Regions from separate parts of the Homo sapiens genome. Here region 2 is linked to region 1. Evidence: fine-mapped expression QTL. Tissue or cell type: subcutaneous fat. Region 1 holds a variant in brackets; the other region holds the start of a gene. All regions are shown on one strand. Distances are between the middles of the regions.

Region 1 (5,000 bases):
GCAAGACAGAGGCTGTTAGAAATATGCAGAATCCCTAAGTAGTTTGGGGGCACATTCCATTTTTCTAGACAATTAAAAAAAAAAGAGTATATTTGACTAAGGTGTCCACCAAAAAGTCCCAAACAAATCAATAAGGGTTAATTAGTAAACCTCAGTTACCTCAAGATCTTACTAAGCCATAAAATCCACTGCCAATAATGCCTTGTTGGAGTTATGAAAACAAAACAAAATAATTCATAAAGTAGTAAGAACTATTAAAGTAAAATCATTAAAGTTCATTCATTTGAAGTGGACCATCAAGGGTAATATGAAAAGGACTACTACTACTACATCAGCTGCCACCAGCTCTATCACTAAAATACCGTATTTTTTAAAGTTACATAGACATGGGCCAGGCGTGGTGGCTCACGCCTCTAATCCCAGCACTTTGGGAGGCCGAGACGGACAGATCACAAGGTCAGGAGTTCAAGACCAACCTGGTCAACAAGATGAAACCCTGTCTCTACTAAAAATATAAAAATTAGCTGGGCGTGGTGACAGGCACCTGTAGTCCCAGCTACTCGGGAGGCTGAGGCAGGAGAATGGCGTGAACCCGGGAGGCGGAGCTTGCAGTGAGCCGAGAGCTCGACACTGTGCTTCAGCCTGGGCGACAGAGCAAGACTCTGTCTCAAGAGAAAAAAAAAAAAAAGTTACATAGATGTCATTTTTCACTAAGGCTGAAAAAAGTATTCTATCTAATTATTCACTGCTTACTAAAAATTCTAAAAAACTCAACTTAGTTTATTAAATCACTATGACAACAGGATCCACCCAGAGTCATGTTTCTGGTGGAAAAGCTACTGTGGTAACCACTTATTTACAAAAGAAAACCTAACGAGAAAACCCAACATATACAAAGTCCTAAGAAGCTGAAAAAACAGTTTTTCTAATCTCAGTATTTTCTGCAACCTAGAAGTTAACAAGAACTCTATTTTTGCGTGTGTGTGTGTGTGTGTGTGTGTGTGTGCATTTTCTCTTCTGATCTAAGACTGAATCACTTTCTGGCTTCATTCAGAATCCACTGAGGCCCGGTGGGGAGTGAGGTGTGCAATTTTATGCACTAAGAAAACCACAGCGGTGACTCATGTCTAATATGTGCCCTGCATGTTGTCAAGAAAGGCTGTGGAAAAGTCAGGAAACAGGACTTGGCTCTGGTTATCGCGTGTATTTCCCCATTTTTCATAGTAACTTGGAAAATGTTGCTACCCAACATTGGAAAATGTTACTGCGCAGTGTTCACAGGTGTCGGGATAACCCAGTTCTATTCTGGGAACTTTGAGTTCCGTGGCCCCAGGCTCCCAACCTCACCTCCTTGAGTTTGGTTTTCTCACTCTTGCCTTTTATTTATTTTTTTTTTCATAGGGGCAGAAAGTAGGGGTGAGTATTCATGAGATCATGGCTGTTGAGTTTTGAGGAAAATATATGGTAAAGTCATTATAGCTTATAAAATCTCCCGTCCCTGGGGTTTTAAAAGGCAGGAGGGAATGCCATTCATTTGAGATGATGAAGTTTGAAACGGATGACCTCTCAGACACCTTTCCGAATGTGAGGTCCAAAAGAGACAGGGAAGTTCATTCAATAGGGAAAGTCAAGCACCAATGTTGAAACAGGCAGCTGCTCTTAAGTGTTCTGTGAGCAACGGCTTCGGACACACCACGCCCGCGACTGAGGCCTTCCACCTATGGCCACTCTCGGCTGAGGCCTTCCATCTATGGCCACTCTGCAGGACATCCCTCGGCAGGGGTGGACGGTCACTCCCCATCTCCCACCACGTGGGGGTCTGCAACTCCCAGACACACCCAGCAATTGGAACCTTTGCTCAACTGACTGATCAAGTCTTTTCTAGTAATACCTTCATTCGTTTTAATACTTTTTAAAAGGTTTCATTTTGGACTAGCAAATCAGAAAAAAAATTTAATGCTGATCACTGGCAAGGATGTGATAAGAAGGTCATGCTCACACATTGCTAGTTGGAGTGCAATACATAACTTTTTTTAAAATAAGAGAGAGTCTTGCTCTGTCACCCAAGCTGGAATGCAGTGCATGATCCTAGCTCACTGCAGCCTCAAACTCCTAGGTTCAAGCAATCCTCCCACCTCAGCCTCCCCAGTAGCTAGGACTACAGGCATATGCCACGGTGCCCAGCTAATTCTTTAAAATTTTTTGTAGAAATGAGGATGTGGCTATGTTGCCCAGACTGCTCTTGAACTCCTGGCCTCAAGTGACCCTCCCATCTCAGCCTCCCAAAGTGCTGGGATTACATGCATGAGCCAGATGCCCAGCCCATCTCCATCTCTAATCAGTCAACAGCTGGCCAAGCTTTCTTCTTTCACAAGGCATGGCCG[C/T]GTTGCAATCATATGTTTTGATGGCATGTTCTCTGCCTCATCTGACCTGCTGGACTGAGGCCTACCAAGTAATTCATTCTCCTCCCACACCCTGGGGATCCATATTCATTCTTGCTTACTGCATCATCTGGCAGGGCGAGGGCTTCTTTTAAAGAGCATCGAGGCCAGGCGTGGTGGCTCACTCTTGTGAGCACTTTGGGAGGCCAAGGCGGGCCTCTTGAGGCCTTGAGGTCAGGAGTTCGAGACCAGCCTGGCCAACATAGTGAAACCTCGTCTCTACTAAAAATACAAAAATTAGCCGGGTGTGGTGGCAGGCGCCTGTAATCCCAGCTATTCGGGAGGCTGAGGCAGGAGAATCACCTGAACCCAGGAGGCGGAGGTTGCAGTGAGCCAAGATCATGCCACTGCACTCCAGCCTGGGTGACAGAGTGAGGCTCCATCTCAAAAAAAAAAAAGGCAAAAAATAATTATTACTGTTATAAAGAGCATAGAGATGCCCACTACCCATTGGCCTTCCACATAAGAGTGTAGCCACTCCATCGCAGGACCTCCGTGTTCCTTGCTTACACAGCTCCCCAGATGGCCAGCCTCGGGCCTCCCCCAGCCCTCATTTCTGAAGGAGCCAGGAGGTAGAGGAAACACTAGGAGGCTTGGAACTCAACTGTGGCTGAACCCCAGTTCCCAGGCCAACAGCCCAGGGCCAAGCCATCTCCCCACCCCAGCCGGAGCCCCAGAGGCTGCCCTCTGCAGAACCCTGAGCAATTCCCCTGGCTGGATGCCACCTAAACAACTCCTGGTTACCTCTTGCTCTGTAAGGGATCCCGCCTCTGTTTTCTTTCTCTCGAACCTGTTTTCTCTGGCACAGCAGTATCCCCAAAATTCCTTGCTCTCTTCAAAACATGACATTGACAGTCTGTTCAAACCTCCCTGGAGCATCACCCAAATCCACAGTGTAGTTCTCCTGTTCTTTGTCTCTCTCTCTCTCTCTCAGTCTCTTTTTCTGTCTTACATACACACACAGATGGAAGAAGACTCAGAAGGTCATAGGGTCCATCATCCTGCGTCTAGGTAATAAAAATAATATTAACAGCTAATATTTTTTGAAAACTTGCTATATGCCAGGCACTGAGGTAAGTTCCTCCCATGGATGTTCTATGAGAGACAAGTACTGCCACTGTCCCCATTTTACAGATGAGGACAGAGAGGCTTCGGGGGCTTGAGGAACCTTGTCCAAAGTCCCACCATTAAACTGGGATGCAGGCCCAAGCAGTGTGACCCCGGGCCCCCAGTGACAATTAACAACCACCTCCATGGGTCTCAGCCGTCTACAGCATCGCTAGCACCGGAAGGTTTTTAGGGAGTCTACCAACAACACAATCAGACACACCCAAGGCAAAGCTCATTTTTGGCAGAACATGCCCTGGAAAGCTGGGAGCAAAGGGGAAGCCCTGGAGTAAGCTCAGCTGAACTGATAAGGAAAGGGCAGAACCCACCGGAAAAACAGAACTTCACTCTTGCTGGAAACTGACACAGAGTATGGCAAGTGAGTTCTGCTTCTCTCCACCGCCCAGTGCTAGTCAGAGCCCTCCCTCCGGTGCTCAGCAAGACCCCGGCCTTACAGCAATTCCACTCTGCAAATGAAGCCCTTCACCATGAGCAGCTTCCCCAGGGCACAACTGTGGGATTTTTCTGCACGGACTCTTGGCCTGGCCCCATCCGACAGTTTATAAATGAAGGCCTCCAGCCGGAGCTGCAGCAGAGCAGAGACAGGAGCGGAGACCCTTGAGTCATCCAACCCCTGTTCTGTGCTACACTCTTTTTCCAACTCTAAATTTTATGTGCAACCAGCAAGCAATCAAGACAGGAAAAACAAGCAAAGTTTTACATACACCGACAAAATGCTGATCTGTCTATTCTATTAATAATACAAAATCTCAGCAAATGCAAATGGCATTGCATGCATAATTCCATAAAAAGTTAAATCCACACTAAATGTTTCCACCTGAAGTGACATTTCCAGCGACTTCTCCATTAATATAGTTAACGCTGTTTTTTTAAAGAGATTATTCTGTATCTCCTAAAAAAAATGTAGATGCTAAAAAAAAAACAAGAATAATATCCAAAAAGTGAATTCTATATACCACCTTTTATTCTGAAATACTGCACGTCGTAGCACAAGACTAACCCACAATCATATAGTTAGAAATATTTCTGCCCACAGTCTAATGCGAATGGTTTTTCGCTTTCTTTTTTCTTTTTTTCCAGGTCTCAGTGTAATACTAGCGCTAAAGGAATAATAATCAACCTCAGATTCAGAACATATGCCAAACTGCTCAAACTGAGGCTGAAGGATCACTTGAGCCCAGGAGGTCGAGGCTCCAATGGGCTGTGATTGTGCCACCGCACTCTAGCCTGGACAACAGAGCGAGACCTTGTCTCAGAAAAAAAGAAAAAAAAAAGCCATCTCATTATCAACCATGTCTATCTTTTTTTAAAAGAAGACAAAAAAAAAAAAACGTAATTTTAATCCACTTCCGTAGGGAAGTGACTTCTTAGCACTGACTTTAGAATAATGACACAAAATATCTTGAAGTAGGACCTTGAAAAATAGTCATG
Region 2 (5,520 bases), 69 kb after region 1:
ATTGGCCATTACAGGATCTACAAAGTGTGTCAACCCTGTATGGACAATCAAAAGTTGCTCTGCCTATCTGTGAATACCAGCTCCGCCACTTAATAGTTAGCTAAGGTTTGGTAGCTCACATAATTATCTCTGCTGCCTTAGTTTTCTCATCTGCAAATTGGGTGTAATGGTAAATACCTACCTCATAAGGTTACTCTGAGATTTAAATGAGTTAATACACATAAGGCACGTAGAATAATACCTGATCCTGGGTATACATTTCAGAATACCACCTATGATTACCATGATTATTATGTGGAGTAAAAACATCTTGATCATCACACTGTTTCTATCATTCTTCTAGGTCCAATGCCAGTGCTACAGTGGGAAGCTCCTTTGCAAAGAATTCCATCCCAGGCAGAAGGCAATGCTTTAGGACCCTAAGAGAGACCCATTCCCAAAGCTCACAGGGAACATGGCTGGAGTCCAAGAGGCTGTTCTGCCAGAGAAGCGCTCTGGCACCAGAGGGCAAATCCCCATTTTTCCCCAAGGTGGAAACCACCCACAGTCATCTCCAAACACCATGCTCCAGCAGGAGCCACAGCTTGGAGCCTCAGCAGCCCCGCCACTGCAGAGGTGCAGCTGCACGAGTCAGTCAGGGGACAGGGCATCAGTCACCCGGAGGCTACAGGCAGGAAGCCAGTGTGGGGGGCTCGGGTGGGAACAAGCCACGGACAGGAAAGCATTCACACAGGGTGGGTCCCCATGCTCTCCCATCTCCTCATTGGCGGCCACAGTGCGGGTCCTGGATGACAAGCAAAGGCCATGCTTTCTTGTCTCTCAGTAACTTGAGCATCTCAGAATCACAACCCCAAACCCGAATAAACCTCAGTGGCAATTTTCAAAAGTTTTGACCCAAACTAACCCCTTACCTGGCTGCACTAAGAGGCAACCCCAAACCCCTATTTATTAAAAAGCTACATCTTTTTCTGTTTTCATTCCAACAAAGATAGCAAATAGGTGCCCTCCCTGAAAGGCAACAACCACAGCAGGGAGACCCCACTCTAGTCCTCAGCGTGCGCCTTCCCGGGAATCAGAAGCAGGACTGGGAAAGCCACCCTCACAACTTCTCTCCGGGGGACCCCCTGCAGATCTGCGTGGGGGTGAGGGGAAATGACTGAACAGCAGCAGACGCCGAGCCTGGAGGTGAAGACAAGCTGGGTAATGTGGTGCTGGAAAAAAGAAACCAAGCACAAAAACAAGCACACGGAAAAAAAGGAGGAAGGAAAGAAAGGGCACCCAACAACGCACTGATTTATCCCATGAAATAGCTCCCCTTTCTCTTCCCAGCCTAATCAACACCTCCATGAACCCCTGCAAAATGGGCATTTCTGACTGCACACCTGTGCGTGAATCCACACTGACAGATACTGATGCAGAGCAAATACTGATTGTGTGAGGGAAGGAAATAACTTGAACTTCAGACTCATTCGGCAGGTCCTGATTCTCTTTCACTATCAGCCTCCCCACCTATTCTGAGCCGCTCCGAAACAAAACAAACAAGACCCAACTCCTGGGCAGAAAGGGAACAGCAGCTGAGCTGAGCAGCACATGCTTGGAGCGTTCCTGCCATCGACTTCGGATTATTTCTGCTTTCTTGAGACACAGCCATCAGCATGGGACTCGATGCAGCCCGGAGAGAGCACCGCCCGCGCAGCGACGCGCACAGACCCTCCCTTGGAGACGCGCTCCCCGGCGCGTGCGGCCGAGCCCGCGTGAAATGCACAGACCCTCCGGTGAGGCTCTGCCCACGTGTGACCCTGAGCACTGCGAAGCCCTTCCCTTCCATCCTCGCGTGGCCACCCAAAGTCTTGCCTACACCTCGTACGTGCAGATGCCAATTCCATAGAAATACATGATGTAAGGACAGAAATGGGAACGACTGGAGGCTGATCTTCTCGTGACCACGTCTCGCCAACGCGGTGCGCCCATGCACACGGCGAGTAAACGCACACAGCCGGTAAACAGCCATCCCCACCATGCTCAGCCCACAGTCACGCGTGGGGAGAAGGCAGCGGAGAGGGCGGCGGTGGCAGGAGAAGTGGGAAGTCGCGCGCCCGCGTGGGCTGCTCCCTGACAGCCCGGCGCTGCCCCCTCCCCCTCCCGGGAACGGCGCCCACCCGGGGGTCGCAGGCCCACGCGTCGGGCGCGCTCGGGGGGGCTCCGCAGCGCCGAGAACGGGACAATGAGGACGCGGTGACAGGCTGGGTTTCTGCCGCGGTAGTGGCGGCGGCGGCAGCTGGAGCTGCCCGTGCAGCCCCTGCCGCGGCCACCTCCACCCTCGCCTCCCCGGTCCCCACTTACGTTCCGAGGGTCTCTTTGAACTCGAAGATCTTCTTGATGTCTTCAGCTTGCTTTTTCCAGGAGGAGCTGCTCTCGCCGTTCTCCCGGGCCATGGCCGACGAGCGCGGCGCGGAGGAGCGGCCGGGGGCGCGCTGGGGAGGGGGCGCCGGGGGCGCGGCGCGGGCGCAGAGGCGGCGGGGATGCCGGGCGGCTCGGGCTGCGGCGCAGCTTCCTCCTCTGCAGTTTCCTCTTTCGCTCTCGCCGCCGCCGCCGCGGCCGCGGTCCCTCCCTGGCTCTTATTTCTGCTGTTCTCGGGCACAGACTTCCTGCCGCCGCCGCGCGCCGGCTCCTTTGCCGCCGCCTGCCAGCCTCACTTTCTGCTACTTTCTTGCCTCCCTCCCGCTCCCTCCCTGCCGCCCGCCGCGCTCCCCCCCACCTCGCGCCTCCTCCCCCTCCTCCCCCTCCTCCCCCTCCCGCGGGCTCCCCGCCCTCTCCGTGCGCCCCGGCCGCTCCCCGCCTCCAGCGCGCCGCCTTCGGGGATGTCCCGCTCCCCTCCCAAGAGCGCCGGGCCACGGCCGTCGTGCCCCCTGGAGCCCCGGCGAGGGCGGGTACGGGCCCCCGGCAGGTGCGGGGCGCACGCGGGAGAGCCCCAGCCCCTCCGGGAGCTGGAAACGGAGCCCAGTCTGGGGGCGCCGGGGCTTTCCCGTCTCCGGCGGGAGGGGGCGCCTCTGCGTGGCTCGGAAGCGCCGGGCGGGCGGGGGTGCGCGGCGGCCGGATGCGGGGCGCCGAGGGCGGGGCGCCTTCCCGCGCTGTGGCCTGTGGCCCGGGGGACCCGAGGGGCAAGGCGTGGGGTGGGGGGGGTGGGGGCCGGTTGTTATGGCGACGGGCGGCGGCGGCGGCTGGGATGGAGGCGGAGGCGGGCGGGAGCTCATTCGCATTGCACCAAATCGGTTTCACGTCAGTTTCGGGACAGACCCGCGAGGAGCAAGCCGGGGAGCCTCTGGGCGGGTACGCGCAGGACGCGCCAGCAGCTGCCTCGTGGTCCCTTTGCGAGCAAAACTCCCGGGGGTGTTTGGCAGCCGCGCGGGCGCCCTGGTGCTGGGCTGGAGCGGCCGGCGGGCCTGGCCGGCCTGGTTGCCCTGGCTCACGCTTGGCCCCTTCTGGCATCTCCCTGTCTCCTCCCAGAGACTCAGTGGAAAGAAGTGATCGTCTGCCCCGCAGTCCCCTCGAAGGAGGAGCCCACCCGCGGCTGGCTTAGTAGGGTGTCCGGGTTGCGGGGCAGGCACCTGCTTTCCTATGGACTGCCAAAACTAACCCAGAGAATTCCCTCCGGACTCCCATCTCCCAGCTGTACTTTGGCCTGCCCGCCCCACTCCTGGTGTCCACCTGTCAGAGGGCAGCCCACGTGCTCCAGTTCCCTGGTCCCCAACCTGCAGGGGCGACCTCTTGATCGGAAAATTTTAGATTTCTTGGTATCAACACTTCGCCTCCCTCAGGGCCTCTCCTCGTAGTTGGGTAAACAGCTCTGTCTCTTGACTGGGGACACCTGTCCCATTTTCCCAGGACTGTTCCAATTTCACTGTAAAAGGAAAAAAAAAATCTGCTCCCTGAATAGGAAACTTCATCCAGCACCTTGTGCCTAGTTCTGACTCTGGCTGAAGTGGAGGCAGCCCAGCTGCTCTCCCTCAGCCCCTACTCTGACCCTAAAGAGGTCAGACGACACCCTGGCATCCCCATTCCTGGGACCTCCATGCTAGTTTCCATCTTTCAAAGACGGTTAGCTTAAGGTTTTCCAAACTGAGAAGAGCAAAGAGGGGATTTACTTGCCGGTTAGATGTAGAATAAATCCACAAACCCAATTTCCAACACGGATGGGTGAGAAGAATTACTAAGGAACCTCTCTTATACTTGAGGCACATTACCAAAGTTCAAGGCAAACAGCATCCCCTTCAATAAGAAACATTTGAAAAACTATCATGTATTTTACTTGTGCCAAAGGTTAGATAATACAAACAGTGGGAACCAGGGCATAAGTCAACTAAGATCCCAACTGTCGCTTTCTCATGCCTACAGTCAGCATCTTCTTGTCCTTTCTTTCTCCTTCCCTTCCTCCCACTGTGTTTCCTTCTCCTCTTTTCCTATTTGGTTCTCTGCTATGTTGCCCTTGCTGCCTGGCCTCAGGAACAGCCGCCAGAGCTCATGAAAACAATTCTCATTCTCAGCTATTATCCCCACAGCTGAAGAAGTGCTGATTCTCTACTACCCGGCCATAAAAAAGAATGAAATCATGTCTTTTGCAGCAACGCAGTTGGAACTGAAGGCCATTATCTTAGGTGAAATAACTCAGAAACAGAAAGTCAAATACCACATGTTCTCACTTAGAAGTGAGAGCTAAGGCTAGGCATGGTGGCTCACGCCTGTAATCCCAGCACTTTGGGAGGCCTAGGCCAGTGGATCACCTGAGGTCAGGAGTTCAAGACCAGCCTGGCCAACATGGTGAAACTCTATTAAAAATAAAAATTAGCCAGGCATGGTGGCACATGCCTGTAATCCCAGCTACTCAGGAGGCTGAGGCAGGAGAATCACTGTAACCTAGGAGGTTGCAGTGAGCGAAGATTGCACCATTGCACTCCAGCCTGGCGACAGAGCAAGACTCCATCTCAAAAAAAAAAAAAGGAGAAGAAGTGGGAGCTAAATAATGTGTATATGTGGACAGAGAGTGTGGAATAATGACATTGGAGTGGGGTAGGGGAAGGGATGAGAAATTAACTAATGGGCATGGTGTACCCTATTCTGGTGATGGTTAAGCTAAAAGCCCAGACCTCACCACTACGCAATATATCCATGTAACAAAACTGCACTTGTACCCCTAAATCTATAAAAATAACCATTAGAAAAAAAGAAAGAAGGCAATTTTACAGGAACAGTAAAGATGAAGGGAAAGCAAATGAGAACTTCCACGTGGCCTGTGGCCGTGACTTTTCCTACCAGGCTATAAGCTCCATGAGAGCAAGGCACCTGTTAACTTTCTCGCCACTGTTTCCCAGCACCTGACACGGTAACCTACCCATACTGACTGATCTGTAAATGTGTGTCGAATGGATAAAGAAATGAAATTGAGGCCAGGCGTGGCAGCTCACGCCTGTAAAATGCCAGCACTTTAAGAGGCAGAGGCAGGCGGATCACCTAAGATCAGGA

Alleles and levels. Alleles are on the strand shown, and positions count from the first base shown. SD is a standard deviation of normalised expression in the study named.
For the expression in subcutaneous fat of the gene that starts at base 2,707 in region 2, allele C in region 1 goes with a lower level than allele T (moderate effect, 0.46 SD a copy in GTEx).

Evidence for each region.
Region 2: CAMK1D starts here. The variant in region 1 is fine-mapped to the expression of CAMK1D in subcutaneous fat (GTEx, PIP above 0.99). The same link has a PIP of 0.9 or more in fibroblasts and visceral fat.

The regions. Positions count from the first base shown.
Region 1 is chr10:12,415,647-12,420,646 of GRCh38, reverse strand. The region is part of intron 1 of CAMK1D (calcium/calmodulin dependent protein kinase ID); the gene reads right to left. Among named protein-coding and RNA genes, the nearest start is that of CAMK1D, 69 kb to the right of the region's middle. The variant C/T (reference allele first, on the strand shown) is at 2,385.
Region 2 is chr10:12,346,734-12,352,253 of GRCh38, reverse strand. CAMK1D (calcium/calmodulin dependent protein kinase ID) reads right to left here and starts at 2,707. Exons shown (of 11, transcript NM_153498.4): 1 at 2,344-2,707. The coding sequence starts at 2,435. RefSeq lists enhancers at 1,559-1,718, 1,893-2,392 and silencers at 2,429-2,518, 2,689-3,248, 3,289-3,548.